Regions from separate parts of the Homo sapiens genome. Here all the other regions are linked to region 3. The links come from fine-mapping of genetic effects on gene expression. A gene starts in region 3. Each other region holds a variant in brackets. All regions are shown on one strand. Distances are between the middles of the regions.

The links.
Region 1: its variant is fine-mapped to the expression of GPRIN1 in whole blood (TOPMed, PIP 0.92).
Region 2: its variant is fine-mapped to the expression of GPRIN1 in whole blood (INTERVAL, PIP above 0.99).

The regions. Positions count from the first base shown.
Region 1 is chr5:176,549,321-176,552,076 of GRCh38, reverse strand. CDHR2 (cadherin related family member 2) reads right to left here and starts at 2,735. Exons shown (of 32, transcript NM_017675.6): 1 at 2,663-2,735. RefSeq lists an enhancer at 1,530-2,463. The variant G/A (reference allele first, on the strand shown) is at 1,375.
Region 2 is chr5:176,563,093-176,565,848 of GRCh38, reverse strand. It overlaps CDHR2 (cadherin related family member 2), which reads right to left. Exons shown (of 32, transcript NM_017675.6): 2 at 445-511; 3 at 106-177. The coding sequence starts at 496. Among named protein-coding and RNA genes, the nearest start is that of CDHR2, 15 kb to the right of the region's middle. The variant C/G (reference allele first, on the strand shown) is at 1,341.
Region 3 is chr5:176,608,900-176,611,626 of GRCh38, reverse strand. It overlaps GPRIN1 (G protein regulated inducer of neurite outgrowth 1), which reads left to right and starts at 1,471. Exons shown (of 2, transcript NM_052899.3): 1 at 1,471-1,628. RefSeq lists silencers at 1-239, 1,141-1,770, 1,831-1,890.

The DNA of each region.
Region 1 (2,756 bases), 60 kb after region 3:
CAGTCACTGCACAACCGTACCCCTGGGCTCTTTTCTCTGTTTGCTCCTTTTAAAAATGGGAACTATTAACCGGGCGCGGTGACTCACGCCTGTAATCCCAGCACTTTGGCGGGCCGATTACGGGGTCGGGGTCAGGAGATCGAGACCATCCTGGCTAACATGGTGAAACGCCGTCTCTACTAAAAGTTCCCCAAAAAAAAAAAAAATATTAGCCAGGCGTGGTGGCGGGCGCCTGTAGTCCCAGCTACTTGGAAGGCTGAGGCAGGAGAATGGCGTGAACCCGGGAAGCGGAGCTTGCAGTGAGCCGAGATGCCGCTACTGCACTCCAGCTTGGGTGACAGAGCGAGACTCTGTCTCAAAAAAAAAAAAAAAAAAGAGAACTCTTGGCTAGGTGTGGTGGCAGTCCAGGCCAATACCAATAGTTCTCATTTTTTAAAGGAGCAAACACAGTCCAGCACTTTGGGAGGCTAGAGTGGGAGGATCACTTGAGCCCAGAAGGTTGAGGCTGCAGTGAGCCGAGATCGCGCCACTGCACGCCAGCCTGGGCGACAGAGCAAGACCTTGTCTCAAAAAATAAAAATAAAATAAAGTAATTTAAAATGGGGACTATCTATATTCCAGAAATTACTGCTTCCTTGTTCTCAAGCCCTCCGGCCACTACTGTTGTTTCCCTGCTCTCAAAAAATGCCTGGACCAGCCTGACCAACATGGTGAAACCCTGTCTCTACTAAAAATACAAAAATTAGCCAGGCATGGTGGCGCACACCTGTAATCCCAGCTATTCGGGAGGCTGAGGCAGGAGAATCACTTGAACCAAGGAGGCAGAGGTTGTGGTGAACTGAGATCGCACCACTGCACTGGAGCCTGGGCGACAAGCAAGACTCCATCTCACAAAAAAAAATTAGCCAGACGTGGTGGCGTGCACCTGTAATCCTAGCTAGTCAGGAGGCTGAGGCAGGAGAATCGTTTGAACCAGGGAGGCACAGGTTGCAGTGAGCCGAGATAGCGCCTTGCACTCCAGCCTGGGCAACAGAGTGAGAATCCGTCTCAAAAAGAAAGTGCTTAGGGAAGGACCAAAAAGGACACAGAGAAGAATCAGGGAGACTCTGGCCCCCACGCCATGAGATGTGTAGTCTCCAGGAATCCTCACTGGTCCCACCTGGCCCAGGAGGTGCCAGCTCTTCAGCCTTGGCTGAGAGGAGGCTTCAGCCGCATCTCAGAGCAGTCCACGGTGCCAAGATTTTCTAGAATTTGGAACCACTGGGAGTGAGGATACCCGGACTGCCCAGGACCTCCAGGAGGGTCAGGGTGGGGAGGTGGGTCCTCCTTCAGTGTGGGGAGCCCCCGGGGTGCACTCAGCCACGATGCTACAGA[G/A]CTCCCCCAGCACCGCCACCGCTACACGGCCAGCTCGCCATGCACTTTCACTTCTGCTTTTTCATTTACTTCTCACAGCTGTTCCCAAGCAGGAATTATCCTATCCTATTATTCCAAGGAAACCGAGGCTCATAGATGCCCAGAGATGGGTGAGCCAGGGGCAGCAGGTTAGACCCAGGCTGCCTCCAAATCCAGGGGTCCCTGGGCAAGCCTTGGTCTGGGCTCCGTTGATCCAGGAGGCCGTGCCTGCACCCACAGAGCGGACTCCAGCCGAGCCTGGGTGCCCGGAGCAAGGATGTGGGACCTGAGCACGCAGCTCCCCGCCACGGGCCCTCCCAGTGCCTATGGCCCAGGCCACCTGGCCCAGCAGACACATACAGACTCAAACAGCCCTGGGTTCAGATGGCAGCATTTCACATATTTGTTGTGCAACCCCAGGCAAGCCCTCTCCCCTCTCCAGGCCTCAGTTTCCCCTGCTGAGAAGCAGAGTGAGGATAAAAATCAAGGGGTCTACACACGGGCCATGACTTGTTTCCATCTGCCGGACCTCGGTGCTCACTGGGACCCTGCCTTGTGCCTGGTGCCCAACCCAGCACAGGCCTGCCTGAGTGACGCAGCATGGCCCCGACTCTCAGCTGGGTCACCACCTCCTCTACCAGGGCAGAGAGATGTGCAAGGCCCGGACTGGGCAGAGCTGGGGCCAGCCTGGGTCAGTCCCTGCCTGACACTTCCTAGCACTGGCTGAGGTGGCACTGGGCTCGGTCATAGGCCACATGCTCACCTTTGCCTCAGGGCTTTTCAGGCCCTTTCTGGAACTCTTCTCATCCCCATTTGATAAATGAGGAAACGGAGGCCCAGAAGAGTTAAGTAGCCCACCAAGGTCAGGGTGGAGCTGGGATGTGAACCGAGCAGCTGGGGTAAGAGCCCAGGTCAGCTTCCCCGTCCTCAACCCCTGAGCATCCTATGAAGGGGTCAGGCCAGTTACCTCGTTTCCCTGGGGTGCCTGCCTCCCTTCCATCCTCTGAAGAATCATCCCTTGAGGACTTGGATGGGAAGGGGGCCATCAGCCCCCAGGGAAGGAGGTATTATTATCCCATGTTTACCAAAGAAACAGGCCTCACAGCAGGCTGGGACCTGACCCGGCTCTGCCCCATCTAGCGTGTGACTTCCCCTGCCCAGCTTCAGGGGAGACTTTTAAAGACCCCCAAGCTTGCCTTGGCTCTAGGGATCCCCCCAACCCCCACATTTCTCTGGCCCAGAGACCCCCGATGAGCTGGATAGTCCCTACCTGTGTCCCCTTCGCCACGGAGGCGGCAGGCAGGCGCCGGACAGGCGCTGGCACACAGGTGGGCACCCTCTGCGGCCTGCAGCTATGTGGCCAG
Region 2 (2,756 bases), 46 kb after region 3:
AATAAGCCATGGAGTTGCAGGCATGGTGGGGGCTCCAGAGGGCACCCCAGGACTTTCCTGTGGGTCAGGACCTGACATGGGGCAGACACAGGGACCGGGACTCACCCACAGGCAGGTCCTCAGGCAGGATCACTGACGTCATGTTGGCTAGGAACTTCGGGGCCACGTTGGCTGCCACTGTAGGGACACAGTGTGCTGGAACATCGGGACACCCCTGCAAAACCCGATCCCTACCTGCTCCCCTGGGAGCACACACTAGTCCTTATGGCCACCCAGGCCACCCGTCCAGGCCTGGATTCCTCCCCAGGCCTCCCCAGCTTAGCCAAGCACAGGGCTGGCCCATAGGAGCTGGTGTTTGCTGATGAGGGATCCCCCTCCTTTCTGGAGGGTCCTGCCAAGGGTCTCTAGGTTAGGGCTGCGTGGCTGGGGAGGGGAGACACCTACCAGACACCACGAGGGCAGGAAGGAGGAAGCAGGACAGCCATAGCTGGGCCATCACATCCGCAGGGACCTAAGGGAAGAGGTCAGGGAATGGCTCCTGGACTCAGGCCTCCCTCCTTTTGGCAGACTCCCATCTGCCTGGGTCTGACCTGAGCCCACCCACCACTGCTGCTTAGTAGTTCTCCCCCAGGGCCTCTATCACCCTCTGTCCATTTTCCAGATGCTCTAGGGTCAGGGGAACCAAGGGGGAGGCCAGGTGGGGTAGGGGTGACCACGATGTCTGAACCTGAATCCAGGACCTGCCATGCACCAGGAAATGCTCCAAGGCACTAGATGTGCAGCTGTGTTATTCCCACAACTGTGAGGTGGCTGCTAAGGCACCAAGATACGAAGGGGCTTGCCTGAGGCCACGGGGAGTCAATGACAAGACCATGCTTGGAACACAGGTCTTTTGGAGTCCAGAGTTCATTCTCTCAACCACTGCACCATCTATACCTGCCTGTTAGAAGTGTTCAAACTAATAGTATCCTTCACAATCAAGACCCTGGAGAGGGACCATAATTTGTCCAGGACCATCCAGAGACTATGGGTGGGCAGGGTCCTTCGTTCACCTGCTGATACATCTAGTGGCTGTCTTTGCAGCCTTTCCCAAACTGTGCTCCGTGGAACCCTGGCCCTCTGAGATGCGCCACAGCAGAAGGGTTCCCCAGTCAGGTGGGTCTAGGGAGGGCTGCATACTCTGGGATCCTCTTGTTGATTGATAGCCAGACAGAGACCTTAGAAAACCCTGCTGGGCCAGTCTTTTTGATCATCTTATGTTGCAAGCCGTCCCTTGTTAGGGAAAAGGAGAAAAGGGGGACTTTGATTCACTGTCACAGAGAGACCTGAAACATCAAGGC[C/G]CTTTCAATGCCCAAAGACAAGGCTGGGCGTGGTGGCTCACGCCTGTAATCCCAGCACTTCGGGAGGCCGAGGCGGGCGGATCACCTGAGGTCAGGAGTTCAAGACCAGCCCGACCAACATGGTGAAACCCTGTCTCTAACAAAATACAAAAAACGTTAGCCGGGCATGGTGGTGGGTGCCTGTAATCCCAGCTACTCGGGAGTCTGAGGCAGGAGAATTGCTTGAATCCGGGAGGCGGAAGTTGCAGTGAGATGAGATCACGCCATCGCATTCCAGCCTGGGAGACAGAGTGAGACTCCGTCTCAAAAAAAAAAGAATCCCCAAAGACAACTGATGTGTCACTCCACAGAAAGCAGGAGAGCAGGATGGGCCCCCACACGTTTTGTTTCTTGCTGTCTGTCTAGAAAGTTGTCTGTATGCTCTATGTTCACTGTGCTACTCTATAATCTTTCTGTAAGACAGGGCTTTTTACTGTATACTTTTTTCTTTTGAGACAGTGTTTCACTATGTTGCCCAGGCTGGCCTTGAACTTCTGGGCTTGAACTCCTGAGTAGCTGGGATTACAGACGTGTGCCACTGTGCCCAGTTTTTTACTGTATACTCTTTTGTGCTGATTGAATATGTTAACTTTTCCAAAAATGAATTAAACAAGCTTGAAAGCAAACAAAGGAACACATTTGCTACTGTAAACTAAAAATAAAATCCTATGCCTCCCACTGACTAAACGGCCCCACTTGTGGCCCAGGAGACCCCAGAAAAACTTTCAAAACTTAGTTTCCAGCCATGGCGGGATGGGAGGTCAATCATGCCTCATTATACCCTTCTCTTTTACAGGCGACACACAATAACCGACCAGCGTTAATGTTAAAATAGAGTTCGCAGGACTGAAAGAATAGACATTCCGTGGCAATAAGATGCCAAATTATAAACAGGACCTGAGGCCATGCCAGGCCAGGGTGAAGCCAGGCAGCCCTACAGAAGAAACTCTGTTCTAACTGCCATGAGGGTTTTTTTTTTCTTTTTCTCTAGCAGCTAAATAAGCACTGGCCTCGAGAAAAGCCAAATTAAAGCAATTACAGCTCATCCAGTTCACAGCTGCTGACGAACTGAGCCCCTGTTCCACCAGCCATAACCGCAGCCTTTTTTGTTTGTTTGGTTTTGAGACAGAGTCTCACTCTGTCACCCAGGCTGGAGTGCAGTGGTGCCATCTCGGCTCACTGCAACCTCTGCCTCCATTGTTCAAGTGATTCTCCTGCCTCAGCCTCCCGAGTAGCTGGGATTACAGGCACCCACCACCACACTGGGCTAATTTTTGTATTTTTAGTGGAGACGGGGTTTCACCGTGTTGGCCAGGCTGGTCTTGAACTCCTGACCTCAAGTGATCTGCCTGCCTCGGCCTCCCAAAGTGCTGGGAT
Region 3 (2,727 bases):
GGGTTTGTAAGCTCTGAAGCGAAATGGCCTTGTGGGCAGTGAATGAGCAATTTTCAGGACCGGAAATGTGAGGAAGCAGCCCTGGTGTGGTGCTGTCCGTGGTTCTGAAACCGGTCCGACACGCTGAGGTTTTCTCCTTGCCTGGCGTGCTGCCTGGAGACGCCAGTCCCACGGATTTTCTTCATTTATCACCTAGAATTTTAAATATATATATATATATATATATATATATATATATATATATATATATATATATATATATATTTTAAAGGATCACGGTGACTTACGGTTCACCAAGTAAGAGAGGGGAGTAAAATGTAAGAATAAGAAGTGAGGTTTCAAAGTTAGACTGCATGGGTTTGTAATCCCAGCTCCACTACTAACTAGATGTGTGACCACAAACAAGTTACTTATCTGCTTCTCTTTTCTTATCTGAAAAATGGAGATATAATACATTAATATTAACTTGCTCCTAAGCGATTGGAAATTGAAATTAGATAAAACCTGTAAACAGAATCTTAGCGCCGTGTCTGGCCCTACATAAGCATCATTGCCAATGGTTGTTACCATTGATTAATAGATGGTGGTGGCTTCATAGTACCGGTGCGAGAGGGTTTTGTCACATCTAGAGCAATTACGGAATTATTTTTTCTCCTCTGGGAAGTCAAGGGGAAGGGAACTCCTTCTCTGCAGGGAAATGTGGAGGGGGTGGGCAGCGAGTCTCTGTGTCCTTGGTGATTCAGATACCACTGGAAACCCCTGAACACCTACTTTGCCCTTCCAAGACCACCGTGAGGTGCATAATGTTAGTCCCGTTTTACAGATCGAGAAACTGAAGTGCAGAGAGGTGAAATGATTTGCTCGAGGGTATCCAGGGGGAGGGGGGAGGGCGGGCGGGCCCCCGGGGAGGCCGCAGCCAGGGACTGGAAGGCATCTCTCCCGCACCACTACCTCCGGCGTCCCCGCCACTCGCTGGAGCGTGGGCAGCGGCGAGACAAAGGGCCGGGGGCGGGGAAGAGGAGGCCGGAAGTGCGGCCGGGGGTGGGGGGGGCGGAGGCGGGAAATTTCCTCGCTGGCGGAGCCGGGAGATCGCGCCGACCTGGGTCCCCATCCAGGCGCCTCGAGTCCTCAGGCCGGCGACTGCCCCCTCTGAGCCCCAGTTCCCTCCTTGGTCAAGCCAGGCGAGGGCTTTCGAGGGGCTGGTCTAAGATCTGCTAGACGGCGCGCCCCGCCCTCAGCAAGCTCGCAGCAAAGGGGCAGCCTCTCCGGCCCTCAGTCTCCCTGTCTGTGAAGTGGGAACCCGCTCGAGGACGGCGCGGAACCCGGGAGCCCAGCGGCCGCAGTTAGGGTTGGCCAGCGAGGGGCGCCCCTCCCTCGCTCCCTCCGGCCGCGGTTTCCCCGCGGTCACCGCCCCCTCGCGGTTCCGAGGCGGCCGGGCGGCTACTGCGCATGCCCGGGGCGGGGCGCGGGGCGGGAGCGCGGAGCCGGCGCTGGGGACGGCGGCGCCGAGTCTGCGGGTCCTCCCGCCAGCCCGGCCGGAGGCAGCCGAGGCCGCTCGGGCGGCGGCGGCGGCGGCGGCGGGAGCCGGAGCGCATCTCGCCCAGGAGCCGGAGCAGCGGCACTGCCTGGTAAGCGCCGCGCCCACACCCGCTGTCTTTCCGGGCGGGCGGCGGCAGCCCCTTCATCCGCTCGCTGCCGCCCCGGAGCCGCTGTCCAGGGTCCTCGAAGCCCCCCGGCGGCGGGGCTCGGACACCTCGCGCGGCATGAGCCCGGGTGTGTGCGCGCGGCTGGGGGCGGTGGGTGTCTGTTTCCAGGCTCCTCGCCGGGGCGGGGCGGGGCGGGGCGGGGCGGGGGCGGGTCCCGCAGCCCTGGGCCGAACATCAGAGGGGCCCGGCGGGCCAGGCTGACCTGGCTGTGGGGTCGGCCCCGCGCCCGGCCTTGCCGCCGCCCGCTGGCTTTGTTCGGCATGGCCGCGCGGGAGGGGGTGCTTCCCGCCACTGGGGGGAGGGCGTCCTCCCGCGTTGATTCATCTTCCCCGGAGCGAGCTCAACGCTCCACTGGCTCCACTCGCACTACTGAGCACACTCGCCGTCACACAACCAGTGTGGCACACACTCCGGGGCGCGATCACACAACACCGCGTTCACGCACGGGCGCCTCATTTCCTCGAGTGAGGCCACAGGTCTACCGCACACACACAATGGCTGTTGGTCATTCCATTAGACTCATACACACGGCCACCTGTCACCCAGGGTACTGGGTGGGAGCCTTGCGTACACACCCAGGCACAGCTACGCACTCAAACCAGCCATCGCGGATCACAGCATGGACATCAACTCAACAATACTCCCTGATCACAACACACTCGGGGCCACCCTGCCCTGGCCTGCTCACCCCTGCTCATGGGGTCCCTTGCGTACCCAGATACCCTGGAGTAGACTGCCACCCTTGTGCACACACTCCCTCTTACACACACACTCTGTCTCTTAGCGTGCTGCCCACTCCCACCCACACTGGCCCACGTTTGCACGTCCATGAACGTCCATTCTTGCCCTCCTATGTATGTATGTATGCATGGTCTGAGGGCCGTTTCTGGAAGCAGGTCTGGCTAACACCTTTAGATTCCTTCTCCCCCCACACCCCCGAGCAGGAGACTTCGCTGCTCTGAGGGCACTACGAGAGAAGGGGACGAGGGGCAGCAGACTGAGATTCTCAGACACACTCAGA